Linked DNA regions of Homo sapiens: regions 1, 2, 3, 4 and 5 are each reported to be linked to region 6. The links are microRNA targets in miRTarBase. Many come from high-throughput screens and were not tested one by one. Region 6 holds a microRNA gene; each other region holds the end of a gene's coding sequence.
What was found. Region 6 holds the annotated microRNA hsa-miR-124-3p (UAAGGCACGCGGUGAAUGCCAA, at 2,702-2,723, shown strand). A microRNA usually pairs through its seed, bases 2 to 8, with sites in the 3' UTR of a target mRNA and lowers its output. Matches are read on the target gene's strand: a 7mer-m8 pairs with bases 2 to 8, a 7mer-A1 pairs with bases 2 to 7 and ends in A, and an 8mer does both.

Region 1: miRTarBase lists ACAA2 as a target of hsa-miR-124-3p. Seed matches in the 3' UTR shown: 7mer-A1 at 3,490-3,496 and 7mer-A1 at 3,450-3,456.
Region 2: miRTarBase lists AP1M2 as a target of hsa-miR-124-3p. Seed matches in the 3' UTR shown: 7mer-m8 at 4,117-4,123 and 7mer-A1 at 4,098-4,104.
Region 3: the mRNA of BCL6B is a reported target of hsa-miR-124-3p. The part of its 3' UTR that is shown has no 7-base or 8-base seed match.
Region 4: the mRNA of AIF1L is a reported target of hsa-miR-124-3p. Seed matches in the 3' UTR shown: 7mer-A1 at 4,143-4,149, 7mer-m8 at 3,069-3,075 and 7mer-A1 at 2,970-2,976.
Region 5: miRTarBase lists PHF21B as a target of hsa-miR-124-3p. The part of its 3' UTR that is shown has no 7-base or 8-base seed match.

The regions. Positions count from the first base shown.
Region 1 is chr18:49,780,061-49,785,302 of GRCh38, forward strand. ACAA2 (acetyl-CoA acyltransferase 2) reads right to left here. Exons shown (of 10, transcript NM_006111.3): 9 at 5,137-5,242; 10 at 2,104-3,871. The coding sequence ends at 3,787. Among named protein-coding and RNA genes, the nearest start is that of ACAA2, 31 kb to the right of the region's middle.
Region 2 is chr19:10,568,670-10,573,911 of GRCh38, forward strand. It overlaps AP1M2 (adaptor related protein complex 1 subunit mu 2), which reads right to left. Exons shown (of 12, transcript NM_005498.5): 12 at 4,002-4,419. The coding sequence ends at 4,397. CDKN2D (cyclin dependent kinase inhibitor 2D) reads right to left here and starts at 310. Exons shown (of 2, transcript NM_001800.4): 1 at 1-310. RefSeq lists a silencer at 1-576.
Region 3 is chr17:7,026,332-7,031,573 of GRCh38, reverse strand. BCL6B (BCL6B transcription repressor) reads right to left here. Exons shown (of 9, transcript NM_181844.4): 6 at 4,953-5,117; 7 at 4,739-4,869; 8 at 4,487-4,624; 9 at 1,930-4,071. The coding sequence ends at 3,955. Among named protein-coding and RNA genes, the nearest start is that of BCL6B, 5.9 kb to the right of the region's middle.
Region 4 is chr9:131,119,385-131,124,626 of GRCh38, reverse strand. AIF1L (allograft inflammatory factor 1 like) reads right to left here. Exons shown (of 6, transcript NM_031426.4): 6 at 1,483-4,392. The coding sequence ends at 4,305. Among named protein-coding and RNA genes, the nearest start is that of NUP214, 3.6 kb to the left of the region's middle.
Region 5 is chr22:44,878,159-44,883,366 of GRCh38, reverse strand. It overlaps PHF21B (PHD finger protein 21B), which reads left to right. Exons shown (of 13, transcript NM_138415.5): 13 at 63-2,205. The coding sequence ends at 281. Among named protein-coding and RNA genes, the nearest start is that of ARHGAP8, 130 kb to the right of the region's middle.
Region 6 is chr8:9,902,122-9,906,121 of GRCh38, reverse strand. It overlaps MIR124-1 (microRNA 124-1), which reads left to right and starts at 2,650; the gene lies at 2,650-2,734. MIR124-1HG (MIR124-1 host gene) reads left to right here and starts at 2,793. Exons shown (of 3, transcript NR_024281.1): 1 at 2,793-4,000. LOC124902057 (a long non-coding RNA gene) reads left to right here. Exons shown (of 4, transcript XR_007061170.1): 2 at 760-963; 3 at 1,494-1,590; 4 at 1,935-2,052.

The DNA of each region.
Region 1 (5,242 bases), not on the chromosome of region 6:
CAATTTTTATGCTATAATTTCTTCAAACATCATCTGTCCATCTATCCATTCACCCATCCATCCAAGCACTCATTCCATCAACAACATTATTGTGCATCTACCATGTGCCAGGCGCTGTGCTAAACACATGAAGTCTTTGCCTTTATGGAGTTTACAGTCTAATGAGGGAGTGAGACAGTAAATGGACTACTAAGTGAATATGAATTCAGGAAAGTTCCATAAAGGTCAGGGTGCTACAGTGGAAAGTCTCAGGGCGAGGAACTTAGGGTGAACAGAACAGAGAACCTGACTGAAGAGGAAGCATCTGAGACTTGGTGAGCGGGACCCAGGCCCAGGAAGGCACAGGAAAGAACATCTGCCAAAGCCCTATGGCATGAAAGAGCATGGTGTGCAAGCCGTCCCCAGAAAGGCCATTTGTCTGAAGCACTGGGAGCTAGAGGAGTGGCCTGAGATCACGTTAGAGTCACCATAGTTTGAGTTTTTAAAAGATGCTCCTGGTGGCTTCTTAGAGAATGACTGAAGAGGGGTAAGAATGGAGGTAGGAGCCTCTAAAAGCTCTTGTGGTTGTCCAGGCAAGAGATTCTGGTGGCTTAGGACCACAGTAGTGGAGGTGGAGAGGGGAAGAAATGGATGTATTTGAGCTATATCTTGGAAGAACTGATAATACTTGCTGATAGACTGGAGATGAAGAGTGAGGGAGAGGGTAGAACTGAGGGAAATGCCTGGATTTCTGACTTGAGCTACTGGCACTGAGAAGAACTTGAAGAGGGAGCTGGTTAAGTGGGATATGATAAAAGTTACTGCTCAGGGCATGTTTAAGAAGACATCTGTGAGAAAAGTCAAGACGGGAGTTTGCTACAGCAGTCTGGAGGTAGAGACCAGTGCTGGGATGTAAATGTGATGATATATTATGTATGTATATATGTATGTACTTTGAAACAGGGTCTCACTCTGTCATCCAAGCTTCAGTGCAGTGGCCCAATCACGGCTCACTGCAGCCTCAACCTCCTGGGCTCAAACAATCCTCCCACCTCAGCCTCCTGAGCAGCTGGCACTACAGGCACATGCCATCACACCCAGCTCATTTTTCTGGTTTTTTGTTTTGTACAGATGTGGTCTCACTATGTTGCCCAGACTGGTCTTGAAGTCGTGGGCTCATGTGATCCTCTGGCCTTGGCCTCCAAAGTGCTGGGATTACAGGCATGAGCCACTGCACCCAGCCAAATGTAATGGTATTTAGAATCATAGAAAGAAATCGCCACAAATCCAAAAACCAATCCCAAGAAACTCACAGCAGTGGAGCAGCTGCCCAAGAAGATGAAAAAGAATGGCCTGAGAGGCAGTGGAAAAGCAGAGACATGAACAGAAGTCAGTTCAAGGAGGAGTGGTCAACTGGGTCATGTTTTGGAGAAGTCAAATAAGGTGAAGACAGAAAGATCTCCACTAGTTCTGGCAATATGAACATAAAGGGTGGCATGAGCAAGAGAACTGTGGCTTAAGTGGTGGCAGCCAAGTAAGATTAGAGTGAAGAATGAATGAACCACTCATAAAGTCCTTAAGAAAACTAAGAATAGAAGGAAACTTCCTGACCTTGATAAAGCATTATCTATCAGAAACCTACTGTAAGCATCAACTTAGTGAGGAACGAATATGAGCATTACCACATTTTATTTCCTCCAGTACTGCGCCAGTGGTCTCAGCACAAGGCAAAAAGGCAATAAAAATAAATGAGATACTATCTGCATGATTCAAATTAATAAAAGGGTTCCACAAGCTGGCTAGATATATAATATCCAAAAGCTATTCATTAGCAATAATCAAATGTAAAAGAAAATAGGAAAAAGGTCTCAGTTGGATAACAAAACTACACAAGACCTTTATGGGGAAAAGCGATAAACCTTTACCAAGGCCTGTGCCAGGAGATGCCCTGGGAAGCGGATTGCTTCAGCTATTGGCGACAATTCCTTCTTCATCTGGAAATTCATAGGCTTGATAAACTATCACTAGTGTTTCTAGAAGATGGTAACATGTGACCTTGGTCATTTCATCCCAGAGAAAGTTTATTATAAGTTACAACAAACGAAGAATATGTAAAAAACAAAATGTTCTGCAAAACATTGTTTTATTATGAGAAATTATACAGGGCTCTTACTTTTTAATATTTTTATGACAGTAGAGGAAGCCTGCTGCTTCTCAGTAAGGATCCCAAACAATAAAAGCTGGACTTGCCTGTTGCCACTAGTCCATTATCCCAAACCGTGGGTAGGCCGCTTGTCATCTGCCTCTCTATGACAGAAAGGGGGATGTATGTGCCACTTCAGCTTTTTAATCAAATGAAGGAAACCATATAAGCAAAGGGTTGAGGAAACAGTGTAGGTACTTATGATACTATTATTTAACATCTAGTATTATTTAACATCTATTATTCAGTGAGCCATGACTGTGCCACTGCAATTCTGCCTGGGTGACAGAGCAAGATGCTATCTCAAAAAAAAAAAAAAAAGGCCGGGTGCAGTGGCTCACGCCTGTAATCCCAGCACTTCTTTGGGAGGCCGAGGCGGGTGGATCACGAGGTCAGGAGATCGAGACCATCCTGGCTAACACGGTGAAACCCCATCTCTACTAAAAATACAAAAAATTAGCCGGGCGTAGTGGCAGGCGCCTGTAGTCCCAGCTACTGGGGAGGCTGAGGCAGGAGAATGGCATGAACCCAGGAGGCGGAGCTTGCAGTAAGCTGAGATCGCGCCACTGCACTCCAGCCTGGAGGACAGAGCGAGACTCTGTCTCAAAAAAAAAAAAAAAAATTTCCCCCCAATAAATGTATAACCCATAAATTCAATTTAATCTTAATTAAAATTTCCAGTGGCTCTTTGATGAAGTTAACAAGAATAGGGCCTTGCCCTACTAGATATCCAGTCTTAGAACAGACAAATAAAGCAATGGAAGTGTTGTGGGGGCATTTTAAAGGGAGAAAATAAAGGATGAAAGATGGCCTTTAAGCTGGGAAGAAGGAAGTAAGGTTTATACACACAGCAGAATATTATTCAGCCTTTAAAAAGAAGGAAATTCTGACACATGCTACACCATAAGGTGGATGAATCTTGAGAACATTATATAAAGTAAAGTAAAATAAGCCAGTCACGAAAGGACAGATATTTATAATTTCACTTATGAGGTACCTCGAGTCATCAAATTTATAGAAACAAAATACACTGGTGGTTGTCAGGGGATGGGGGATGGGAGAATCAGGAGTTATTGTTTCCATGTGTGGTGACTGAAAAAGTTCTGTTGATAAAAAGTGGGGATGTTTGTATAAAAATGTGAATGTACTTAATACCAGTGAATTGTACGCTAAAAAAGGGTTAAGATGGTAAAGTTTATGTAATGTGTATCTTATCACAATTTAAAATTTTTAAAAATATAAATGACAGGAAAATATTAACTGAAGTTAAGGCAACATTTATTTGATTTCCTTATAATCATATTATCTAAGGCAGAAGTGGTGGTTACTTGGCAAGAATACGATTTCTTTTAATGTCTTCTATAGTTGAGTTTTAGCTCAGAAATACATCATATTTCACTGGTTCAAATCTGAGAGAATGTACTTCTAGCATGGGCTCCTATTCATGATCAATGCATTTTTGTGTCACCATGGCTTGATCAAACTTAATCACTGTTTCAATGGCAGGGCATGGCCAGTTGTGGCAGCTGCTCTGAAGGTCACTTGTTTTACTGTGGCCTGGCCAAGTAGAGTAAGGATGGGTCACAGTGAGCTCACTGGTCTCTTCAGGCTGTGCTCTGAATGATGACAGCAATACCTTGGCCACCTCCAATGCAAGCTGATCCAACGGCATATTTTCCACCTCGACGCCTGAAAAAGAAAGCAGTGACTGAAATCTACTCTAATAAAAAATCAGATTAATGAAATAGAACTAATAACATCACATCTGCATTACTCATCCTTATTCAGCTCATCTGCTCAATCTTTTCCCCAGTCCTCAATTTTGGTATAATTACAACAGGCAACAGACTTTGGAAAGCTGAAAGTTTTTAATCAAAAAAAACAAAAAACAAAGAACAAAAACAAACACCAGAAGAGGGAGGCAAACTAAAAAGGAGATGAGTGGATTTAGGGTTATAGAGTAGATTTAGGGTATATGAAACACATACAGAAGCTTGTGTGTGTTACGGGAAAGGAGTGAGAAGAGGAGGTAACTGGATAAATGGGAAGCTGGGGAAGGGGATGAACATTAAGCTCCTTTGATTTATATATTTGATTTATATAGTGTGAGAGCCTCATGGCACCTTAGAAGAAATGTAATTAATAAAGTTTGTCCCTATGAAAGGGCAGATAATTTAGAAACTATCCATGTCCCTTTCATAAAAATTAGACTCTTTTAAAGTACTCCTCACTCCTAATATGATGACTTCGAGAAAATTATCCAGGAATTACTTTTGTATGTGGCAATCACCTATTTCAACTCAGGGAATCATTAAGTGAAATAAGAGTCACATTTCCCCTGGCCTAACAGGGAGTCAGAGTAATTTTTCAGCCTGACTTACTTGGTTTTGTTTGCAATTTTTCTACAGAGCAAAATATTCCAAAAATAGAAGAGCTCCTCCTTCTGGTACTATCTATCAAAACTGAAAAGCACCAAACACCCAAAAGGTTCCTCCTGGAACCCTGCAAGCAGTGAAAAGAAAAACTTAGACCCAAATGTCAGTTTGCTTAGATTTCATAAATTATGGCATCTAGATCAGTACTCACTCAGTACTTTTTTTTTCTAAAATAGATTTATTTTACTCCTGTAACTGGCACTAAAATACAAGTGCCATGAGAAGCAGGGCCTCATTATCTGCTCATGCAGTGAACACAAGCTGAGTGGGGCACACAGTGCACAGAGACTGGACACACAGAGGAAGAGCTTGGTTCTTAAGTGCAAAGCCACTAACAAGGTGACTGACTCATCTATGAGACCAGATGAAAAGCACTGCCCAAGTAACTTGTTCCTGGTAACAGCCAGTGCAGGAGACATGAAGAAGAATGAAAAATGTTGGAGTGTTCTGGGGAAGCCTAAATCCATGCATTTCTATAAAAAACAGCAAATCTGAAATGCAGCTATTTCTAGCAAATACCTTAATTCGTGAACCAGGTGTGCAGTAATTCTTGATCCAGATCCTCCCAGTGGGTGACCCAAAGCAATGGCTCCTCCATTCACATTGGTTTTACTTATGTCAAGAT
Region 2 (5,242 bases), not on the chromosome of region 6:
TGCAAAGCCCCCCGCCCCGCCCCAGCCCGGCGCTGTCAGCGCGGAGCAGCCGGCGGGCGCTGGCCCGAACAGCCCTCCCGGGGCGCGGCCGCGGTGCACCCGGCTGCGCTGCTCTCCCGTCCCGGCTCCCCAGCCCGAGACCCCGGCCCTCCCGGCGGGCTCCTCCCCCTGTCAGCCGGAGGACGGCGAGGGGCTGGGAGCCGGGCCCAACCCTCGGCCGCCCGCGGGGCCCTGCCCGGCGCCCGCCCCTTGGGGGCCGGGTCTCCCCCTAACTCACCCTCCCTCCTCCTCGCCGGGCGGGGTCTGCTCTGAGCCTGCGCCGCCGCCGCCGCTGAGGCAGCCGCCAGGGGGCGGAGCCAACGTGCTCCCGGCCACGCCCCGAACGCAACTGATTTGTTTTCTTACAAACTCGCTACTGTGTAGCGGCACCGCGTTGCCCGGCGCGCGACCTTACGGCGTTCCGCCCACAGGGCCTGCATAACCAGTGGCTGCGCGTCGCCGGGGAAACTTCGGGCTCGGCGTGAAACGCGTCGCTCCTGATTGGTCAGAGTGTGGCAACCGGTGGACCGCCGGCAATGGCGGGGTTTTCGGTTTTCAAATGAACCCGGCAGGCGGGAAAGAAGGCTGGTTTAACTGACCCAGGGAGAAAGGTCAGGGGCAGGGTCGCGCGGGCTGCTCTGGGACCTCGGCGCCTCCTGAGGGAAGGGAGGCAGGGCTGGAGCCACCCAATCCGAGGTTCCACTACTAATAGACATTCATTGGCCCTTACTACGAGCTGGGCGCTTTATTTCATTCATTTATTCATTCACTGTGTGCAGGGAGCGTCCTGGGAGCTGGACGCGCACATTCAAACAACCAAATAATATTAGATAGTGTCAAGCACCGTGAAGAAAGGGAAACGGAGAGACGGAGTGGATGAGGAAGGGATCACCCTGCCGGGCTCAGACTGAGCCAGCAGGAAAGGAGCCTGCAGCTGCCACGTGGGAAGGCCTGAGAGGACATAGTCGCAGCCAGACAGGGACTCAGAGGTCTTCGTTCAAATATTTACTTAGCACCTCCTAGAGGGGCCCGAGTGGAGAGCACGCCAGTCGGCCCCTGCTGCAGGGACACCTATGGTCTGGGGCCAGAGACAATAGTTAATTTTTATTTATATATGTATTTATTTTTGAGTCAGGGTCTCACTCCTGTCACCCGGGCCGGCGTGCAGTGGCGCGATCACAGCTCACTGCAGCCTCGACTTCCCGGGCTCAAGTGATCCTCCTGCCTCAGCCTCCCGAGTAGCTGGGACTACAGGGCGCACCACCACGCCCGGCTAATTTGTGTTTTTAGTAGATATGAGGTTTCACTATGTTGCCCAGGCTGGTGTTTTTTGTTTGTTATTTGTGTTTGGCTTTTAAATACAGATTTTTTTTTTTATGTTGGGGTTCTTGCTTTGTTGCCCAGGCTGGTCCCGAATTCCTGGGCTCAACGGATCCTTCTGCCTTGGCCTCCAAAAGTGCTGGGATTACAGGCGTGAGCTCCTGCTCTCCGCCAATAGTTAAATCTTTTTAGAGTGGTAGAGGACTGACCAGATGAGCCATTGAAACGGAAAGGCAAAAAGCCGGGCGCGGTGGCTCACACCTGTAATCCCAGCACTCTGGGAGGCTGAGGTGGGCGGATCACGAGGTCAGGAGTTCAAGACCAGCCTGACCAACATGGTGAAACCCCGTCTCTACCAAAAATATAAAAAATTAGCCGGGCGAGGTGGCGGGCGCCTGTAGTCCCAGCTACTCGGGAGGCTGAGGCAGGAGAATGGCGTGAACCCCAGGGGGCGGAGCCTGCAGTGAGCCGAGATTGCGCCACTGCACTCCAGCCTGGGCGACAGCGAGACTCCGTCTCAAAAAAAAAAAAAAAAAAAAAAAAATTAGCTGCGCCTGGTGGCACGCACCTGTAATCCCAGCTACTCAGGAGGCTGAGACAGGAGAATCGCTTGAACCCAGGAGGCGGAGGTCGCAGGAGCCGAGATCGCGCCATTGTACTCCAGCCTGGGCAACAGAGTGAGACTCTGTCTCAAAAAAAAAAAAAAAAGAAAAGAAAAGAAAAGAAAAAGAAACGCAAAGGCAGGGAGGGCCTCCCTGAAGAGGTGACATTTGATTTGAGACCTAAAGGTGAGGGAGGGAGACTTGTGGTTATATGGGGAAAAGCACACCAGCTGGGAGGCACAGCAGATGCTAAGGCCCAGAGGTGAGAGCGTGCCTGGTGTGGTACAGAGCAGGGGAGAGCAGGTAGGTGGGGTATCAGGATGGCAATTGTGCAAATCAAGCCATGGCTTTTTTATTTATTTATTTATTTTAATTTTTTTTTAATTTTTTTTTTGAGACGGAGTCTCACTCGCCCAGGCCAGAGTGCAGTGGCGCTATCGCGGCTCACTGCAAGCCCCGCCTCCCGGGTTCACGCCATTCTCCTGCCTCAGCCTCCCGAGTAGCTGGGACTACAGGCGCCCGCCACCGTGCCCGGCCTTTTTTTTTTTTTTTTTTTTTTTTTGAGACAGAGTCTTGCTCTGTCGCCCACGCCCGACCAGGCCATGGCTTTAATAAGATAGGAATGCCGAGCGAAGTGGCTCACACCTGTAATTCCAACATTTTGGGAAGCTGAGGCGGGTGGATCACCTGAGGTGGGGAGTTCGAGACCAGACTAGCCAACATGGTGAAATCCCATCTCTATTAAAAAATACAGGCCGGGCGCAGTGGCTCACGCCTGTAATCCCAGCATTTTGGGAGGCCGTGGCGGGCGGATCACGAGGTCAGGAGATTGAGACCATCCTGGCTAATACGGTGAAACACCGTCTCTACTAAAAATACAAAAAATTAGCCAGGCGTGGTGGCGGGCGCCTGTAGTCCCAGCTACTTGGGAGGCTGAGGCAGGAGAATGGTATGAACCCGGGAGGCGGAGCTTGCAGTGAGCCGAGATCACGCCACTGCACTCCAGCCTGGGCGACAGAGCAAGACTCTTGTCTCAAAAAAAAAAAAAAATTAAGCCAGGCGCGGTGGCTCACGCCGGTAATCCTAGCACTTTGGGAGGCCAAGGCGGGCGGATAATGAGGTCAGGAGTTTGAGACCAGCCTGACCAACATGGTGAAACCCCGTCTCTACTAAAAATAACAATAATTAGTGGGGCATGGTGGCGCACGCCTGTAATCCCAGCTACTCAGCAGGCTGAGGCAGGAGAATCGCTTGAACCTGGGAGGTGGAGGTTGCAGTGAGCCGAAATCGCGCCACTGCACTCCAGCCTGGGCGACAGAGCGAGACTCCGTCTCAAAAAAACAAAAACAAAAACAAAAATTAAGCCAGGCGCAGTGGCTCATGCCTGTAATCCCAGCACTTTGGGAAGCCGAGGCGGGCAGATCATGAGGTCAGGAGTTCGAGACCAGCCTGGCCAACATGGTGAAACCGGTCTCTACTAAAAATACAAAAATTAGCTAGGTGTGGTGATGGGCGCCTGTAATCCCAGCTACTCGGGAGGCTGAGGCAGAAGAATCGCTTGAACCCGGGAGGCGGAGGCTGCAGTGAGCCGAGATCGCACCACTGCACTACTCCAGCCTTGGCGACAGACTGAGACTCCGTCTCAAACAAAACAAACAAACAAACAGACAAAAAAAGCCAGGCGTGATGGTGGGCGACTACGACTATAATCCCAGCTACTCGGGAGGCTGAGGCAGGAGAATTGCCTGAACCTGGGAGGCGGAGGTTGCAGTGAGCCGAGATCGCGACACTGCACTCCAGCCTGGGCTACAGTGAGACTGTCTCAAAAAAAAAAAAAGAAAAAAGAAAAAAGGAAAAAAGAAGCGATGCTAACACGCGCCCTCTAGCGGCTACTGGGGGAACAGACCGTGGAGGTGGGAAGCAAAGGCAACAGCAGAGGACCAGGGCCATGACCCGGGACTGAGGAATGGACTGACACGTGTTACCCACTCCCATTGCAGCACTTCAGTAATGTCCCCAAACAAGCACATAGGCAGCGGCTAGATTCATCTTTTTAATGACATCCTAAAATTCAGAGGAGGGGCCAGCGGGACCTCTGGGCTCAGCGGCTGTGAAGGAGGGACCCGCAACACCCGCTAAGGCAGGTAATTGCAAGAAGGCACTCGCGAGGAGGACTTCAAGCCCCTCTTCTATTTCTTCATATAAAATCAGGGGGATGGGGAAAGCTCCAAGGGCGAGGGAAGCAGAGAGAGTTTCTCTCCCAGCCTATGGAATAAGGAAGAGGTGAGGAAGGGGCGGGTGCTGGGAGCAAGAAACTGCCAAGTCCAGGACCTGCCCTCACACAGACACACACAGCCCGCACCTGCCCTCCCTCTAAAATCTGCATCCGGGGCTGTAAGGAAGCCCCGTGTTCAAGCCCCCATCTCTTCTCCCTTCTAGCTGGTACGAAGTTGGTAATCTGCAGAGAAAGAATGAGGAGGGGCCATCTCAGAAATGGGGAGAGGGGGGCCGGGCACGGTGACTCACGCTTATAATCCCAGCACTTTGGGAGGTCGAGGCAGGTGGATCACTTGAGGTCAGGGGTTCGAGACCAGCCTGGCCAACATGGTGAAACCCCATGTCTATTAAAAATACAAAAATTAGCTGGGTATGATGGTGCACACCTGTAATCCCAGCTACTAGGGAGGCTGAGGCAGAAGAATTGCTTGAACCCAGGAGGTGGAGGTTGCAGTGAGCTGAGATTGCGCCACTGCACTCCAGCCTGGGCGACAGAGTGAGATTCCATCTCAAAAAAGAAAAGAAATGGGGAGGGGTGAAGGAAGAGGGACAGCCTCCCACAGCCCCTCAATTCATCCCCTATCCCAGCACTCATGATCAACAAGGCTAAGAATGGGGCTAAACACAGGTACTGTAACCATAGAAACAAGGCAGTTTCCAGGCAGCAGATGGAGGTGCTATATGTTCAGCCCCTTCTCCAAACTCGCGACCACCCTAGAACTGACGCTGACAACTGTCCCTGCTTTTTTTTCCTTTTTTTTTTTTTTTTTTTTTGAGCCAGGGTCTCACTCTTGCCCAGGATGGAGTGCAGTGGTGCAATCACAGCTCACTACAGCCTCGACCTCCTGGGCTCAGGCGATCCTCCCACCTCAGCCTCCTGAGTTGCTGGGACTACAGGTGTGCACATCACACCTGGCTAATTTTTATATTTTTTGTAGTGAAGGGGTTTTGCTGTGTTGCCAAGGCTGGTCTGGAACTCCTGAGCTCAAGCGGTCCTCCCACCT
Region 3 (5,242 bases), not on the chromosome of region 6:
TTTAAGTCGCAATGTTGGCCGGGTGCGGTGGCTTACGCTTGTAATCCCAGCACTTTGGGAGGTCGAGGCGGGCAGATCACGAGGTCAGGAGTTCAAGACGAGCCTGGCCAACACAGTGAAACCCCATCTCTACTAAAAATACAAAAATTAGCTGGGTGTGTTGGTGGGCACCTGTAATCCCAGATGCTTGGGAGGCTGAGGCAGGAGAATCGCTTGAACCTGGGAGGCGGAGGTTGCAGTGAGCGAGATCGCGCCACTGCACTCCAGCCTGAGTGACAGAGCTAGATTCCTTTCAAAAAAAAAAAAAAAAAGGTGTCATGTTGGCCCTGCTGGGTTTCACTGGGTTTCAGACTTTCCTGGGGCCTGTTTCACCCGTTTCTTTTTGCCTATTTCTCCCTTTTGGAATGGGAATGTGTACACTATGCTCGTTCCCACCATTATATCTTGGAAGTAGATAACTTGCTCCATAACTTGGAAGTAGATAACTAGCTCACAGATGAGACTTTGATGCTGCAATGAGTGAAGACTTTGGGATTATGGGAGTGGAATGAATGTATTTGTATGTGAGAAGCACATGAGTTTTGGGGGCCCAGGGACAGAATGCTATGGTTTGCATGTCTCCTCTAAAAATTCATATGGAAACTTTTAGTTCTCAACATGACGGTATTGAGAGCTGGGGCTTTTAAGAGATGATTGGGGGCTGGGCATGGTGGCTCATACCTGTAATCCCAGCACTTTGGGAGGCCAAAGTGGGCGGATCACGAGGTCAAGAGATTGAGACCATCCTGGCTAACACGGTGAAACCCCGTGTCTCTACTAAAAATACAAAATTAGCCAGGTGTGGTGGCGGGTGCCTGTAGTCCCAGCTACTTGGGAGGCTGAGGTAGGAGAATGGTGTGAACCCGGGAGGCGGAGCTTGCAGTGAGCTGAGATTGCACCACTGCGCTCCAGCCTGGGAGACAGAGCGAGATTCTGTCTCAGAAAAAAAAAAAGATGATTGGATTGGATCCCGAGGGTTCTGCCATTCATGGATTATGGGTTATCACGGGAGGGGAACTGGTGGCTTTATAAGAAGAGGAAGAGAGACCTGAACTGGCAATGTTTGCACACTGGCAATGTTTCCTGTGCTGCAGAGAGCCCCCACCAACCAGACGACCACCACCAGATGTGGCCACTTGACCTTGGGCAAAATTTTCAGTGTCCGTAACTGTAAGAAATAATTTCCTTTTCTTTATAAGTTGCCCAGATTCAGTATTCTATAATAAGCAACAGAAGACAGATTAAGACAACTACAAACTTTCAATGTTGGAGGTAGCTGCAGAGATCATGGTAACTGACTTTTTCACAGATGAGGAATTTAAGGCCCAGAGGAAGGTAATATCAGAATTAGTGACCTCCGCACCCAGCACACACACAGGACAGGGGAAAGGGTGGGAGAGATGCATGCACTGGACCCTGGATAGATTCAAGATACCCTTGCTGGGGGAGGGTGGGCTGGCCCGTTAGTTCTAACTCAGTCTTCTCAGTGCCACCTCCAGCCCCTGTGGTCTTTACGGGACCCAACTCTTATCCATCTTCCTTGGTGATGGAGGCATGTCGCCAGCATTAAGATCTCCAGCACAGATGCACGCCCCGGCCTCTTGATATTATTAGTGGCTTCCTGGTTTCTCCCTGCAGCCTCCACACCTCAGGCAGGAAGTGACTTCAGAGCAGCAGGATGCAGGTGGCTCCGGAGAAACTTCATGAAGTCACTGGTTCCTACACAATGAGCAGGAAGGCAAGGGCAGGGAAGGGGACAACGAGGACCATTTAAAATGTCTGGTGGGAAGGGACAGTGGAATGGTACAGAATCCAAGATGTTATCCAGGAGGAAGAGCTCTCTTCCTCGCTCCCCGAGTCCCCCAAGGCAAGAACCCAGGACACAGCAGGCAGCACAGAGAGGCTTCTTTATTCCAAGGATCTGATGTTGCAAGATCTAACATTTCTACCCCCAGGCATTCTCCACCTGCCCATCCAATCTGCTAAATAGAAATCATGATTCCTTCTTATAGACTCCTCCGCCTTCCCTTCTTCCTTCTTTAATTCTGCAGTGGGGCCATGGGGAGAAAGAGGGAAGAGGGAGAAGAGTAGCTTTCTCACTAGTCCCCAGGCGACAGCCACTAGAACTGACTTATTGTTGAAGTTCTACCCCACAAATTCAAAAGTGCTTCTTACTTTCTACCCTCGTCCCATAATCAGATAAGCCCCAGGGCAACAAGGGGCAGAACTATCAATCAAGGCTTCAGCGCTTCTTCTAACATTTCAGAGACTCCACCCAGCCAAGAGGCAACCCTGTTCCTCACTTTCTACCTACCTGGCCTACACCAGAAACTGCACCCCTCAACCAACCTCTTAATCCTACTTGAAACTTGGTCAACTAGAACAGGCCTTTGGCCTATGGGCTAGTCAATCTTTTACATCTGTAATGCCAACAATAATCCCAACCAAACTACAGCAAACCCAGAATGGAACTCAGCCCCTTTTCTTTTCCTATGGAAGGTTCTAATGCATTCACTGGTTCCAGACAGGAATGCAGGGATGGGAAGACCAGGTCACAGACCCAGCTTTTAAAAGGTAAGGTTACCAAGCACCATCCCTTCTAGAGGAAAAGAAGGTTCTGGCATCTGGACACTTGCCAGAAGATGTCCAAAACCCACTAAAGGAAGAAGGGGCTCAACTCAATAGAGAGAACCCCAGGTAACATTCAAACCCATATGCCTCTGTAGTAAAGGATGGGTTAACACTGTTTACCATCTAATCAAGCTAAAGAGTTTCATGATTCTTCCCTAGGCCATAACATTCATAGAGACTGGGCAGAGTCAGAAAAGGTCACATCATCTCTGATAAGGAATGTCTGATCTCTCCCCCATGGAGCGATCAACTCAGTGCTAAGAACAGGCCCCCGTGGGAGGATGATGGACTCCACTTGAGCCCTGGTGGGTCTCTACCACTATAGATGGATACAGCAGAGCCAAACCCAAGTGACCAGATTAATGGGACATTTTAGATTCTGGACCATCTTGCAGAAAAACCTGCCAGCCTCCACTTGGAGTGATACGGAATCCAGATACAGAATCCCCCACACCCACAGCCTCCAGGAGGCATTTATTATTACTTCCATTTTGGGCTCAACATAATGGTTCCTATCACCCTTGAAGAACAGAGAAATGTCTGTATCCATTTCTAGACTGCTAGAGAACCTACAACATCCAGAATACCAGAGAGGGTTCCTGACCCAATTCCACAATCCCGCATGTTCCCAGAGCTGCCCTAGAACAAATAAAGGTTCCAGACCTAGAATTACAGGGGCAGAACACAGAGAACCCCTTTTTCCATTTTAAACAAACTAACAAGCAAACAAACAGGAGAAAGAACAATTCTAAAGATAAAAGTTATGACAGAAATAATATAAAATACCCAAGCCAAACGAGAGAGCCAAGGGCTAGTAATCTCTGCCAGCAGAGCTGTGATCTCACCTTCTGTGTTTCTGGTCACTTTTAATCACACTTGTGGAAGAGGGGAGTGGGAAATGCAATCGAATGAAGGCCCCGGTGCCACCCAAAGGCCTCAATAAATTATATTTACAGATAAACTGAATGCAATGGGGGCCACAGGTGGAGGGCTATTCCCTTAGGGAGACCAGGACTCCAATCTCTCCCCTTTCCCAGCCCCTAGCTAGCTCTCTCCTCAGAAACAATCTGGCTTGTGGGGAAGAGGTTTTGACCAGCAAAACAGAGGCAGATCTAGCCAGGATCTGCCACCCCTGCTCTCCCCAGTGAGAAATTAAGAGGGTGGCAATTTCTGATACCAAAGTGGCCTGGCACACCCCTATGCCCAAGCCTGATAGGGAAGCAAGGCCTGGGCCTGCAGCTTTCCCACCCGCAGGAAGCAAGTGGGGCCTGGGCCTGCGCTCAGCTAGGGCCCCCCGAGAATGTGGTAGTGCACTTTGGTGTTGGTAGCAGCTCCGTGTTTCTGGCGCAGATGCAGCCGCAGTTGACTCTTGTGCCGGAAATGCAGGCCACAGGGGTCGCACTGTGGGAGGACAGCCAAGTCAGGCCCTGCCCCATCCACAATCACCTTTTAGGTGTTGAGCCGGGCGGCCGTCCAGCTCTCCCAGGTGGGAACTATCCAGCGGAAGATCAGCTCTTTGACTCTCACATCCTCCCAAATCCTCAGGGGTGGCTGAGGGGATAGGCCCCGCCTTATTTAGCAAAGGTTTTCCCACTTCTCAGCTCCTCTCTGAGAAAACAGTGCTCAGCCCAGGAGCATCACTTCTATACCTGCCCATCCTGACTCCCAGCCTCCACCCCTTATTTGCTTGGACTCTTCCGGCCACCGCTCATTTCTAAGAGATCTAGGGACAGCCAGGCCCGCACCTCTCAGAGCCCACCCCTAGGCAAAGGAGAGGTAATTCTAAGGCAGTGGGCAGGCCAGGTTGGGTACCCACGTGGTAAGGCTTCTCTCCGGTGTGGATGCGAACGTGGCTCTTGAGGGTCTGCAGGTGGCGGAAGCGGGTTCCGCAGGTAGGGCAAGGGTAGGGCTTCTCCCCGGTGTGGATCAGCACGTGCGCCCGCAGATGTGCCACCTGGGAGGGAGGAGACTTCAAGTCCTGCCTCTGGGAGGAACAGAACCCTCCCTATTGGCCCACCCCACCTCTTGCAGGTTTGCCTTGGAAGCCACTTGGAGGCTGGCTCCGTACCTGTACAAAGCGCGAGCCGCACGTCTCACACTTATACGGCTTCTCTCCCGAATGGATGCGGCTGTGCGTTTTCAGGTTTGCTGGCCGGTTAAAACGGGCTCCGCAGATTGAGCAGTGGTAAGGCTTTTCCCCTGGAGGCAGAGAACATGGGAGATCAGGGACTTTGCCCTAGGACAGCTGTGGGCTTGAAGGCCAGGGCCCTCTCTTCCCCTACCTGTGTGCACTGTACGATGACTGGCAAGGTTGCCCTTGTAGCGGAACGAAGACCGGCACAGCTGACACTTATAGGGTTTGTCTTCGTCCCCAGGAACCAAGGAGTCCAGCCCCGATGAGCACCCTGCCACAGCCTCACAGTTCTGGCAGCTGAAAAATTCACTTCCTGGGAAGGGGAATGGGTGACGGCAACCATAGTTATTAATGAGGGCTATCTAGGTACTACTGAATCCTCAAACCACACAGTAGCAGGCTTTCTGTTTCCCAATTTATTGTTAAGACTTCTGGGGC
Region 4 (5,242 bases), not on the chromosome of region 6:
GGGCGCGGTGGCTCACGCCTGTAATCCCAGCACTTTGCGAGGCCGAGGCGGGCGGATCACGAGGTCAGGAGATGGAGACCATCCTGGCTAACACGGTGAAACCCCGACTCTACTAAAAATACAAAAAATTAGCCGGGCGCGGTGGCGGGCACCTGTAGTCCCAGCTACTCGGGAGGCTGAGGCAGGAGAATGGCGTGAACCCGGGAGGCGGAGGTTGCAGTGAGCAGAGACAGCGCCACTGCAGTCTGGCCTGGGCGAAAGAGCGAGACTCCGTCTCAAAAAAAAAAAAAAAAAAAAAGTAAATAAAAATAGGCTGGGAGCAGTGGCTCACGCCTGTAACCACAGTACTTTGGGAGGCCGAGGTGGGTGGAACACCTGAGGTCAGGAGCTCGAGACCAGCCTGGCCAACATGGTGAAACCCCGTCTCTGCTAAAAATACAACAATTAGCCGGGTGTGGTGGCGGACGCCTGTGTTCCCAGCTATACAGGAGGCTGAGGCAGGAGAATCGCATGAACACAAAAGGTGGAGGTTGCAGTGAGCTAAGATTGTGCCACTGCACTCCAGCCTGGGTGACAGAGTGAGACTCTGTCTCAGAAAAAAAAAAAAAAAAAAAAAAAAATATATATATATATATATATATACACACACACACACACATATATATATACACACACACACATATATATATATATACACACACACACATACACATACATAATAATAATTGATGAGGTAAGGGAGGCACAGAGAAGTTGAGAAAATTCTCCAATAGCCCTCAGTCAGAAAGTGGTGGTGACAGGATTAGAATTGAGATCGTCTGGATAAGGCTGACTGATGGTATTAAAGTCCTTCATAGAATACATTTCTGTAGTGAATTATAAATGCTCTAGGACAGAGGTTCTTTTTTTTTTTTGAGACGGAGTCTCACTCTGTCACTCATGCTGGAGTGCAGTGGCGCGATCTCGGCTCACTGCAAGCTCTGCCTCCCGGGTTCACAGCATTCTCCTGCCTCAGCTTCCCAAGTAGCTGGGACTACAGGCGGCCGCCACCACGCCCGGCTAATTTTTTGTATTTTTAGTAGAGACGGGGTTTCACCGTGTTAGCCAGGATGGTCTCCATCTCCTGACCTCGTGATCCGCCCACCTCAGCCTCCCAAAGTGCTGGGATTACAGGCGTGAGCCACCGCGCCCGGCCGACAGAGGTTCTTAACTTGGACCTCATGGGTTGGCTCCAGGGGGGTCGGATTGTGCCATTTACTGTTTGGCTTGCAGCACATTGCTTATTCAAGCCTACTTTTCAGTTGTGAAACAAGGATGACATAATAGAACCTGTCTCTTGCAGGGAGGTGGTTAGGATAAGTGAATTTCAGCTGTCTCAGACAAAAGGCACAGGACATGCTCATTTAATCTCTTACTATATTAGCTAGTTCGCAATTTGCTGAGCCCAGAACCAGCCCCAAAATACACCAATCAAGACGTTGGTAAGTTTGTCTGGTTTATTTGCAGGCTGTAGAGATGATATCCCAGTCCACGCACACTCCCATGCACACGCACACACATACTTCATCCACCTGAATTTGCCCGACAAACCCTCCTCTGAGTCATAGGGACAAAGCCATACTTGGCAGTCCTCACGTTACTGGTTACATTAGATTTGGTCTTTCAGAAAGAAGATGGTTGAAGTCCCAAGAAGCTGAGCCCTTAGCCAGAGAAGTAAGAGTCCTAGAACCAAGAGCCACAACCTGAAATAGATGCAGACTGCCCCCGCCCTCCTTCCAGGGACAACTCTTGAGACCCTCTCCTCCCAGGAGTTGAGTCTCAAGAAATGAAGGGACTGATGGGGTTTCCCAGGACACACGAGCCCCCACCCCCATTCAATGAGAAAACCCTCTCTTCTGCCATTTCCAGAAGCTGGGGCCACACCTGCTTGCTCTCCTCCCTTAAGGAGAATTCCTGCAGTCTTGTAGAACTGTGGAACTTACTGAAATAAGCCTGACTGGTTCTGCCTTCCTCTCTGAGTGAGGAACAGGGACACTGAATATGATGGGTAGTGAAGGAAGGCTTTATCTTCCTCAAAGGTCCCAGCCTGTCCCAGAGAGGAGAGGCAGTGAGGAGGGGTGAGGACATCTAATGATCTTGGGGAAAAAAAAAACAAAAAACAGGGCAGGGTGGGGGTAGAAGTAGGATTTTCCATTTACAGGGAGGAATGTTTTGCTGGGGTTTAAACTTCAACTAGGCCTGTGTGCATTTGAAGCAGATCCTTGAGCTCAAGATCAGCCAGTCATGGCCAAATAACCTCATTCCTGAACTGGTTGAAACCAGTGGGTTAACCCAACCTGGCCATTTCCTCATGCCTTACCTGTTTTCCTCCCTCAATCTGCTATCAGAGGTGACTAAGGAGCCGCAGGGAACCCACGTTGGCTCCAACCACCAAGACCTCCCAGTCCTGTCCACTTAAGGTGTTGCAAAGGCTCTGCCAAGACTCTCACCCAGTCTTGGGCCCATCTAGGCCCCCAGGACTGCAGGGAAGTCACCCCATACCTCCCCCTTCCTAACATTTATCTCATTGTCATTGTCTGGGTCTCACTTTCCTATTGGACTCTAAGTTCCATGAATCTGTCCATTTCATTATTGGATTCTTAACTGTTGGCCTACAGCAAGTGCTTAATAAATATGTTCAGTGAATAACTGTCTCAGTCCTGAGCAGGTAGGGTAAGAGACTTCAGAACACAGGTGGGGTTAAGGCTGAACACCCTGATCAGCCAAGATGGGGCTGACTTTGACATCTTCCTGCATGAATTACAAGAGGCAGCTTCAGAGGCCTGGTCTTTGCCCTAAGCCTGATGCTGACTTGAAGGCATGGGAGAGGGCGAATCCTGGACCAGGGTCTTCAGAGCAAGTGAAACCCTCTCCAAGTGTTGACCTTGGAGGCTGTCTCTTCCCAGCCCTTCCCTGTTCTCATAACTAACTAAGGCAGCCCACACTGGAAATGAGGTGTAGGCAGGGTCCCTGAACATCTGGGCCCCAGTCCAGGGCACCTCCCTCTGGAGATAAGCCTGACCTTGGGCAAGGCACTTAATCCCTGTGGGGCACCAGTCTCCTCACCTGTGAAATGAGAAGTCTGGCCCAGCTACCCTCCAGGGTGCATTAGGGTTCTAAAATCCTGCGAGTCCATAAGAAAGGACACAGGTGACCCCAGTTCAATTCCCAAGCTCAAGGTTCTGAGAGATCTGGGGAGAGATGAGTTAGACCGTGTATACTGCACATGCCAGGACAACATGGGAGGATGTAAAGCTTATAATAGCAGGTCAATAAATATCTGGTGAATGAGTGAGTCAATGAGTGAATTATGTGAGTAGGGTAGGAAGACAAATGAGAGAAGCAGAGTCAGGTTTCAAGCAGATTGGGGTCAGACAAGCAACCTTGTATTTCTCAGTCTTGGCTTACCAGTGCTGCTGACTTTGCCGTGAGCATTTTACTCCTCATTCTCCCATCCTGGTCCCCTCAGTAACCTCCCTAAAAGGTGGAACAGCACTGAGCTGACCTTTCCCCCAAAACCCCAGGCCTCACTTCTGCCTCCGAAGCCCTCTGCTGCCCCAGTAAGGGACAGTAGGGCTGCACGCTGCCTCTCAGCTGCCTGCACAGGTGTGGCCAGAGAGCAGGACTGGAGGGTTCCTTCTGGTACCTTCTTGAAGGGCTCCCAATGCCAAGCTCCTTTCCTTCCCACCTTCACATCACTGAGGATGAGAAGAGGTGTGGAATGAGTGGGGATCAGCTGGGGCAGCGGGGCCCCGAGTGGCTGTGTCCTGGGTGACACCAGAGCACTGGAGCCATGGCACTGTCCAAGGAAACCCGAAAGAGGCCCTGCAGCCTTGTCCCTACTCCAAGGTCTTCTCAGAGTGGCCTGGGGTCCTCGTCAGAGCCAGGTCAGTGAGCCTGAACTTGGCTTGGAGACTTTCTGAAAGGATGGAGAGTGCTGGTTCCTCCAAGTGAGGGGAACACAGGCTGGAAGCCTCCCTGCCCTGGCCCTGCCCCCTCTAGTTTTTGGTTTGATGTCAGCCCTTCTGCACAGGGAGCGGGGAAGGAGGGAAGAAGAGAGGGAGGGGACCCAAGGCTCAGGATTCCCCGACCCAGAGCCCCTTTAAGGCAGATAATTTGTGCTTTACAAAGACATTGATGAAAACACAAACAAACCCTCAATGACCAAACAAATGAGAGAGAGAGAGATCACAGTGTGTCAAGAAGGGCAGCAAGATCGGGAGGGAGGTATGGGGTGGGAAGGCTGGGGAGTCCAGGCGGGGTCCTCAGGGCAGGCTAGCAATGTCTCTCTCTGGAGGGGGGCCAACTGGCTTGGGGCTGCTCTCGTTGGCTTTTCCTTCAAACATCATGACTCTGGTTTGGAGATGGAGAAAAGAAAAAAAGAAAGAAAAACAAGATTAGGATCCTTCCCTCATCCAGGGAAAGATCATCCCAGCCTCATGTCAGCAGGGTCCTCAACAGAATTTAAATCTGTTCTCCAGTGGGATCCTTGCAGAAGCCCAAGACAGCAGCTCCAAGGAAGGGGCTGCTAGTCCCATTTTACAGAGGAGAAAATGGAGGCGCAAAGTGGTGATATGACTCCTCAGAACCACACAGGCGGTCCAGGGCAGAGGCTGGGTACGACTCCAGGCTTCTGACTTCCAGGCCATACCCTTCCCTTAACCACACTGCCTGGAGGAGGCTGAGCCAGGCTGGGCCACGCCTCTGCGCAAAGATCTTCAAAAACCTGCCCACTGCTCTGAGAGTGGTGTCTGGGGAGTAGAGGGTAGGGGCTCAGCGTATAACCTCTAGGGCAACTGCCTAGATTCAAATGCCAGCCCTGCTACTTCCCAGCCGGGTGGCTCAAGCAAGACACTTGACCTCTCTGATCCTTGGCGTTTCTCCCTGGAAGTGGGGTGCTAGAAGATCTGGCCAGATTGGACCGTGGGCTCATGGGCCAGGTACTCAGTCTCCTTGGGCCTCAACAAGCTCCTTTGTAAAATGAGACAGGTATATTTTACATTCGTACTTTAAAAAAGTGAATCTTATTTCATAAAAGCCAAGTAAGTGTTATTTTCTGTTTTCTTTTTTTTTTTTTTTTTCTTTTGAGACAGAGTTTTGTTCTTGCCGCCCAGGCTGGAGGGCAATGTCACGATCTCTGCTCACTGCAACCTCCGCCTCCTGGGCTCAAGTGATTCTCCTGCCTCAGCCTCCCGAGTAGCCA
Region 5 (5,208 bases), not on the chromosome of region 6:
TGCCCCAGGATGGCTGTAGAGCCGAATACTGAGACCCTTTCCCCTGACCTTCTCCCCAACAGAAATGCCTGGAGTTGAAGACAAGCCTGCTGGCCCGCCAGAGGGGCACCCAGTCATCCCTGGACCGCCTGCGGGCCCTCCTGAGACTGATACAGGGCGAGCAGCTGCTCCAGGTCACCATGACGACCACTAGCCCTGCCCCACTGCTGGCCGGGCCCTGGACCAAGCCCTCAGTGGCAGCCACACACCCCACCGTCCAGCACCCCCAGGGCCACAACTGACCCCGAGGGACCAGTCTTCATACCCACGGAAAGTTATTGGGACCCTGCTTACACAGCCTGGGGGTTCTGTCGGCCTTAATTCATAAACACTATGAATTTCAGACAAAAATTAACCAGACAGAGGAGAGGAGGGAGGAAGAGCTGGGCGAGAGGCCTAGAGCCAGGACCAGGTGGGGGTGCGGCCCTGTGCCCTCCAAATTCACAGGGGGTACCTAGGAGCCAGGTGGGGTACGACAGGCTGGGGCACACAGTCTCCCCCCGGCCACCTCGGGGCTGCCTGGGCCTCTGGCTTCCAGGCCCTGCTCTCCACGGCCTCCCTCTGGCCCGTTGGAGGGGCAGGCTGAGGCTGTGGAGGGGACAAGCACGCCCCCCAGAACGCAGTCTCCACTGAGGGCACCGCCTATTGGTGTCCTGTGGGAGGGCGAGCTGAGAACACATGGACTAGCTGAGTGGTAGCGGTAGTTGGGACGAGAAGCGGGGTAGTGGATCTAGGTAGTTCCTCAATGCCCCACGCTCCTAGGAGGTCCCCCTGGGGTGGGCGGGCGGGCCTGGGGCACTCCGTCGCCTTTGCAGAACCACCTGGGCCCCTTTCTGTCAGTATTATTAGGGTTACGAATTGCAGCTGTTTAACTTGAAAGACACTGTCGGAGGTGAGCATCTGGGCGCCGGGACGCTGCAGTGATCCCCGCCAGAGCCTGTGCCCTTCCTGCTCCGTCTTTGGGGTCCTCAAGGCTGCCTCCTTCCTTTTGCCAATCTCTTGGACTCAGTTTGCCGTTGATGCGTTTTTCTCATGGAGTTTCTGGGCAGAGTGGAGCTGCAACCCTGTTGTGGGGGGCAGCATTTGGCAGGTTTTCTCCTTGGGGTTGAATCATTCAACTTAACGACTGAAGCCCTTTCTTGTCTCCTTTGGAAGAGCCGATAAGTATTCCACTCCTCCCTTCTTGCCAGTGCAGACACTATGCCAAAAAATAACTTCACACTTTTGTATGGCGTTTTTATTGTGAGATATTTAATGTGAATGGTTGGGGGGACTCTGGCTGACTTCCTTTCTGCTTCTAGTAGTCTCTGCTTCAAGGTACAAATGGGAACACCTCCCCTCGGGAAGCCTGGCCAAGCTGGAAGATCCGGCAGGTTTTTTACGAGCCGGGTGGAGGGTTGGGGAGGAAAGAAAGGGCGGTGGCTCGGGAGGTTCCGGCCTTCGGGGACCAGACTTGCTGCCAAGGGCTTCTGCATCCAGGGTGGGCAGTGGCAGCTTGTCACCCTTGCCCGATTCCCACATCCCAGTCCTGAGGGACTCAGCACAACAGGATAAGCGTCCAGGAGCCACGGGCTCCCACCCCGAGCATATCACATGGTGCCGAATTGCACTGAACACGCGTGTGTGCATCGCACGCGGCCACGACCACAGACACGCATGCACACACGCAGAGGTGCAGAGCGAGGAGGCCGGCAAATCCCGCAGCTGCCACGGTCCCTCCTGTCATTCTCACGACTCCGGGAGAAACTGTGCTGTATGATACAGATCTATTTTAATACACTTACCACTGGGTGAACAAGATTTTTATATTCTTTTATTGATGAACAAAGTGAACCGTGTGAGGCACACGTCTTCTATATTGGCTACTCTGTGCCAAGTATGCATTACCGCGTGGCTTGCGATGTCCATGTCTTCAGCTTCCTTTTCTGTTGGTTTGGTTTTCTTCGCGGATGGATTGAGTTACATGTTTTAACAGTGTAATGGGAGGATCTGAAAGGTTGGACCCGGGAGGGGTAGCTGCCGATGTGTCTTGAGATTGTTAGGTTTTTTTTGGACCAAGGAGGACCGTCCAGTGGGTAGTGAGGATAGAGAAAAAGTGTTTGTCTTAAATACGCCAATGTAGTTTTCCTTCTTTACAATGTATTAAACTCGATCGATGATTTCAAAGCCCTGTGGTTTTGGTGTCCTTGCGTTGCGGAGAGGCCCCCGGGAGTGCCCAGGGCAGCCAGGTGGGCGTTGGAGGGGCTGGAAATCAGGGTCTTCTCCCATCCTGAGGAGGGAGGGATGGAGGGAGGGAAACAGGGAGAGAGCTCAGTGCCCTCCACTCACTCACCCCCGATTCCCAGTCCTCAGAGGCGGCGGGTGACCCTTTAGGGCTAGGATTGAGGGTGGAAAGTCTTGGAAACCCAGCAGGTCTGTCACTGTGCAGAGCCCAAGGTGGTGCCCTCTGCTCCCTCATGGGTTCCTGCCTCTCAGCCTGGCAACATCACCGCTGTCTCTCTCCCCCAGCAGCGGGTACAGGCGCTCCTGCAGCCACGCTGAGCTTACACCTTGCCCTACAAGAGGTGGGGAATCAGCCCCCCTGAGTCCTAGCTCCTGGCATTGCACGGGGGACTCTGATTGGCCAAGTGGGTCGGGGCCGACCCCTGGGCAGTTAGCTGTGGCCAGAGGCTGGGGTCTAATGCCAAAGTGGGGTCCGGTGCCCCAGGGGACAGAGAGGTGGAGGGCATGCAGGGCTGCCACACAGTCCCGCTTCATGGCTTGCCCTGGGGAGAATAGTTTGGGAGGAGGGGAGCAGGTTTCAAGTCAGCTCTGCCTGAGCCCTCCTGGGGGCCACTCAAAAGACCACACTCGGCATCCGTGGCTCACTCCTGTCCTCTTTGGATTCTCTTCAGTCCGACTCCCCACCCCTTTGCACCTCTGGAACACCAGGTCAGTAGTGACCTCCCATGGCCAGATCCCCGGGGTGCTCCCGGTCATCACCTGGACCTCTCAGAACCAGAGGACACATTGGCCACACCCCCTGCCAAAGGAGGCTCCTGGGACCTCACTCCTGCCAATGTGGCTGCTCCCTGGTCTCTGCTCCAGACTTGCTTCTCTTCTACCTAATCACTGAAGGCCCAGGTCTGTGTTCAGATCTCCCGCAGCCGGCCTTCACCTGCCCCTGGCTTCTGTCTGTACCCCCAGGCCCACTGTACGGCTGCGGGTGTCTCACGCTCTGCACAGTCTCTACCAGGCCAGTCCCTCCCACCTCCCCATCTCAGAGGAGCTTCAGGCTGCTGGGGCTGGCACCCTGGGAGTCACTCTTGGCTCTTTTCTCCCACCTTGCATACCTGGTCCTTGGCAAATCCATCAGCTCCGCCCTCAGGACATAAGCAGGATGGGACAAGCCTCACCGCCCACCCCAAAATCACCTTGGTCCCAGCCCCATGATCTCCCCTGGATTCCGGCAGCTGCCACCCACCTGCTCTTTCCAAACCCTGCCCCGCTGCAGTCTCTTCTCAACCCAGCAACTAGTGTGATGGCGACGCTGTCAAAACCCTGCCATCCGGGCGCCTGTAATCCCAGCTACTTGGGAGGCTGAGGCAGGAGAATCGCTTGAAACCGGAAGGTGGAGGTTGCAGTGAGCTGAAATCACACCGCTGCACTCCAGCCTGGGCGAAAGAGCGAAACTCCGTCTCAAAAAACAAACAAAACCCTGCTGCCCTGTGTCTCGTTCAGCAAAAGCTAAAGGCCTCACCCTACTCACCTTACTTGTGCCTCCAGGGCCACAGGCCCCGCTTGCTCTGGCCTCTGGTTTATGCCCTGCTCCTCTCCTCCTTGCCTGCCTCCTCGCTTGCTCCCACCGCAGGGCCTTTGCATGTGCTGTGCCCTCGGCCCCCAGCCATCTCCCTGAAGACCTGACCCTGAGCACCGCCTCCTCGCAGTGCCGCCTTCCAGCCCCCTCGCCAGGACCCTGGCATTGCCTGTCCTTCTGCCTGCTCTTTGGTTCCTTGAGCTTCCACAGCCTGCTGTGTGCACCCCTGTGGGTTTTTATCTGTCTACTCAGGAAGATAGGGAGTTTGGTTGGTTTTCTTTCCAAACCCCAGCATCTAGAAGTGCCTGGCAAACAGTTGGCACCCAGCATAGACTTTGGAGAGACAGAGCTGCTAGGCCTTGGGGCTGCGCCATCCTGGTTCAGGGCCCTCCCCTGGGGAGTCCCTTAGGCCACCCCAACTGCCAGGTGAGGCTGGGCAGGCAGATGAGAAAGCAGAGGCCAGGAAAGGGATGGAATTGCCTGCGATCCTGCAGGTGCCGAGTGGACGTGCCTGGACTCCACTCCGTCCTTGTCCTCCAATCCCATGCGGTTCCATCACAGCCATACTCCCAACCAAGAGCAGGGCTCAGGGGCAGCTCCTGTGACCTCCAGCTCCCGGACCGTGCAGGGACTTCCCTCCAAAGCACCCCTCACTGCCCTGCCCCTCTACTCCAGCAACAGCAGCTCCCTCCCTCCCTCCCAGGGACAGCTCTGCCATTAGAAGGGGGCTCCCACGATGTGCAGACATCTGCCGCCTGTAGCTCAACACACCCCACCCCACAGCACCCAGGGGACCCTGTGCTGAGACAAGCCTCAGTTTGGGACAGCGGTCACTCCAGGACCCTCACTCCCAGCTCCATCTAACACGGCCCCTGGAGAGCAGGGTGCCCAGCTCAGGGTGGGCTGGCTGTCCAGGGCAGGCGGTCAGCATGGAAGGAAGCTTCTCTTTGGCAGATCCCAACTGCCAGCATCCCTTGGGGGCCATTGTTAAGTAGGGGGTGAGGGTTGCTTGAGCACAAACACAGGGACACTGCAATGGTCGAGCTGATCAATGAGATGGTGGCCAAGTGACTCATGAGCAGGTAGCTGGACGGAGGGACGCTTCCTATCCAGGGCGGGACACTGCTTATGAATTGTTTATTTCTGGAAATTTCCATTTAATATTTTTGGACTGTAGTTGACCATGAGTAACTGAAACTGCAGATAAGTGGGGATTACTGCATAAGGGTCATTGTACTGGGGGTTAGGACTTCAACCCTGGGGCACACGACTTAACCCTGCTATGGTTCGAATGTGTCCCCTCCAAAATCCAGCTGTTGCCTGTGTGATAGTATTAGGTGGCAGGGCCTTGAAGAGGTGATTAGACCCTGAGG
Region 6 (4,000 bases):
CGTGTGCTGGTGCAGAGGGGGTGGGGGTCTGCGGGCCTGGATCTGTGGACGGGCTCCTAATCCTCTTGTTTTCGGAACCGTCAGCAGATGCGGCTTCCTTTACCTGAATAATCCTTTAAAGGAGTAATAATTTTTAAAAAGGAGCTCGACCTCAGCCAAAGAGGACGGCGCACGAGATTAGGGCTTGGTAAGGAAAAATTAAAAGGCTCCCAATTCTCTCTGTCCCTCTCTGCCTTCCCCTCTACCCCTCCCCCTCCCTCCTCCACCCTCCCCTCCCCTCCCCCTTCTTCCTCATCCCCTGCAATCCGCGCTCGACGCGAGTTCACGCGAAGGGCTGGATTTCCAGGCGGCTCCGCAACTTGCGCGGCGCGGTGTTATTATTCATCCGAGGGTGCTGCCTCCTCAACCTTTGCCTCCTGCGCCGCTCTCCTTCCCCCGGCCGCCGCCGCCAGCAGTGCAGTCCCTCCGGCACGCATGCTCTGGTTCACCAAGAGGGAGACTGATTTTTTTTAAATCATGCTCATCATCATCATCATCATCATCATCATCATCATCACGTTCCTTATCATGGTTATCATTTCCTCCTGCCAGGTGGAGCGACCACCAGCGCCGGCTCGCCTCCTGCGCCTTCCCCAGCGAAGGCAGCAAGCAGTTCGGGCTTGGCCGTGGCGGCCGCTCCCAGGATGCTTCCTGCACCTCCAGCATCCCCCCCCTTATTCATCTGCCTGTGTATTATCTCGATCCTTTTCATTTCAGTAGATCCACTGCCTTTGGTTGGGCCGGCTGAATCGCTGGGGACTGCGGCCAGTCTCTTAAAAAAGGAGAACAAAAAGCCGAAGACCTTGTGTGGCCGCCGGGACAAAGCACCTTGGGTTCGGCGAGAAGGGACGCGCAGGAGCGCTGAACCCAGAACACGCGTGGCCGCTGCGGAAGGGCGTCCGCCCGGCGTGCGGAACGCTGAGGGTATTCGGATTGTCTTTTATTTGTCCCTGTGGCTTGCTTTCACAGTGTCTACGTAGGAGAGGGGTCGGGGTTGTTGGGGTCTCTTTTTTTTTCTGGGAGGGGTAGCTGAATTGTGGGAGACCTAGGTGGACTTGACTTGGCTTTCCTGCTACTCTGCGTCTCCTTCTCAAGATGCGGGGGTTGGAAAGGGGACAGGGGACTCAAGGCTTAGAAAAGAGAAGGAGCCCTCTGCTGCCTGGAGGGCTAAGGGAGTAGAGAGTGGAGATGGAGGTGAGTAGGGATGGGCCAGCCCGAAGAGCACTGAGGAGGAGAAGGGGTCTTCTCCTCCCTCGGGTCCAGTGGATGAGTTTTGCTGGGAATGAGAATTCGGGTGTCTGTCGATAGGAGCGCTGAGAAATTGATGAGAAATTGACATGTCCGTGCACATGCATGAGGCGGCGACAGGATTTGTGTGTAAACAGTGTGGAGAGGTGGAGGAGGGCATGGGGGTGGGGGCTTAAAATGATGTCTTATTGTCCTTTTGGCTTTAGGGACTCTCATCCTCTGTCTCGCCCCCTTTTTTTGACCCGGGGATCCAGCCGCATTATACACGAGTGACCTTTTAAATCTACGTCCACCCTTTACCTGGTAAAGCCCGCTGACAGTTGGGGGTGGGGTGGGGAGAGTGTAGGGGTGCTCTCTCCCTCTCTCCCTCCCTCCGCCTCTCCTCCCTCCCTCCCCCCTGCACTCCTCTCTCTTCCTCCCTCCCACCTCCCTCGCTCCCGCCCTCCCTGCTGCATTTTGCATGAGCTATCTAGGTCATTAGCATTTTAGCGTATGCAAGACTTGACAAAGCTGATGAGGGGCCAGATGGGCCTCGCTCTTATGGTTTTTTTTTCTTCTTCTTCTTCTTCTTCCTCTCTCTCTCTCTCTCTCTGTCTCTCTCTCTCTCGTCTCTCTTCCTTTCCCCCCTCCACCACTTGGGACCTGAGCGAGAGGACTGCAGCAGGCGAGTTCCGGAAGGCTGAATCCCCAGGTCCCAGCCCCGGACCGCGGCAACTCGCCCCTGCGGCACGCCCGGCCCGGCTGCGCCCCCACTCAGCGATGGAGGTAAAGAGGCGGCGGCCGCGCGCCCTGCCCCGGCTGCCGCTGCCGAGTCCCCGCTGCTCTCCTTGTCCTTCGCTCTCTTCTTCCTCCTCCTAGTCCCCTTCAGTTTCCTGGGCGAAGCAGAGGGCGACATGGGTGGGTGGGTTGCTGCGCTGGGGCGAGGTGGGGTCGATGTTGTTTTTTCATTGTCTGGAGCTGCAGGGGAGGCGAGGCGCGGGGAAAGGGGCGAGGGGAGCCGGGGTAATTAACACGGGGGAGGCACCCCTCCGTCTCCCACTTCCACCCACACCCCCATCCCTCCACCCCCTCCGCTTTGCAGGAAAAAGCCTGGATGCGAAAGGATGGGGGAGAACAAAGAGCCTTTGGAAGACGTCGCTGTTATCTCATTGTCTGTGTGATTGGGGGAGCTGCGGCGGGGAGGATGCTGTGGTCCCTTCCTCCGGCGTTCCCCACCCCCATCCCTCTCCCCGCTGTCAGTGCGCACGCACACGCGCCGCTTTTTATTTCTTTTTCCTGGTTTTCTTATTCCATCTTCTACCCACCCCTCTTCCTTTCTTTCACCTTTCCTTCCTTCCTTCCTCCTTTCCTTCCTCAGGAGAAAGGCCTCTCTCTCCGTGTTCACAGCGGACCTTGATTTAAATGTCCATACAATTAAGGCACGCGGTGAATGCCAAGAATGGGGCTGGCTGAGCACCGTGGGTCGGCGAGGGCCCGCCAAGGAAGGAGCGACCGACCGAGCCAGGCGCCCTCCGCAGACCTCCGCGCAGCGGCCGCGGGCGCGAGGGGAGGGGTCTGGAGCTCCCTCCGGCTGCCTGTCCCGCACCGGAGCCCGTGGGGTGGGGAGGTGTGCAGCCTGTGACAGACAGGGGCTTAGAGATGCAAACAGACTCAGGGAGAGAAACAGAAGCTGATTCTGTGACAGAAGCAGATCTGTGCAGCACAGATGCGGTGTGCGTGGGGAGGGGGTCGCCTGGGAGCGCATTGCGGAGTGCTTGTGTGTGCAGATTTTTCTCTGGGCTCAGGACTCATTGTATGTGGGTCAACACCTTCCTCCGTGACTGTGTTTTTGTTCTGAGCTGAGTTTTTTGGTTTGCCCTTAAAAAAATAATAATTTGGCATCCAGAGACTGGCAGACTGCCTCAGGGCCTGGACTGCGGATATATTGTGTTCTGCTTGAGGTTTGGGGAGGAGGGCAGGCGGTAGGAAGGGAGAGGGGGAGCTGTTTGTCACACTTTGCTGTAGAGCTGAGAGCACCTGACAAGCTTAAGGAAGTCGTTGGGCTATGTGGACAAGAAGGAGCCAGCTCCCAGCGGGTTCACAAGCTCTATCGGAGTTGAAAGCGTGGTCATGGCTCTAAGGAGCACCTCACGCCCTCCCTGTAGCTGTTATTGCAGTTTCAGGCAGAGATCCAGGAGCTGCAGAGGAAGGGAGAGGCACAATAACCTACATGGACCCAAGGGAGACATGTGTTCCTTTAAAAATGTGAACAGAAGGAAAAACAGAATGTGTGCAACTGGGGGTCTGAGGAAAGACTGTTTTGAAAGAGGCTGTCAGGGAATGGAAAGGGTTAAGCTTTTCATCCTGAAGAACCTGCTTCCCAAATCAGGCCTTCCTCCCATCACTAGACCCTGAGCAGCAGCTGGTCCTAGAGACCCCCCTCGTACTGCGCTGCCACAGTCTCATCCCATTTCCAGCTCTGTATTAACCACCAAGCTGCAGCGGATGGGGCAAGACCTAAGCTCATTAATTTCCAGGTGGAGGAAATGGAGGAGGGGCAGGTCCCTGCAGTAGAGGGAGGAGCAGAGAAAGGAGGCCAAGAGCTGGATCCTTCTGCCCAGGAAGCCTGCTGCATCCCTTCCCCCGAGCATGGCAGAGGCCTGGCTTTGCAAGGCCAAGGCCATAAGGGATGCTTAGGAGATTAATTTGATTCCTGACACAATAATCAAGCCCT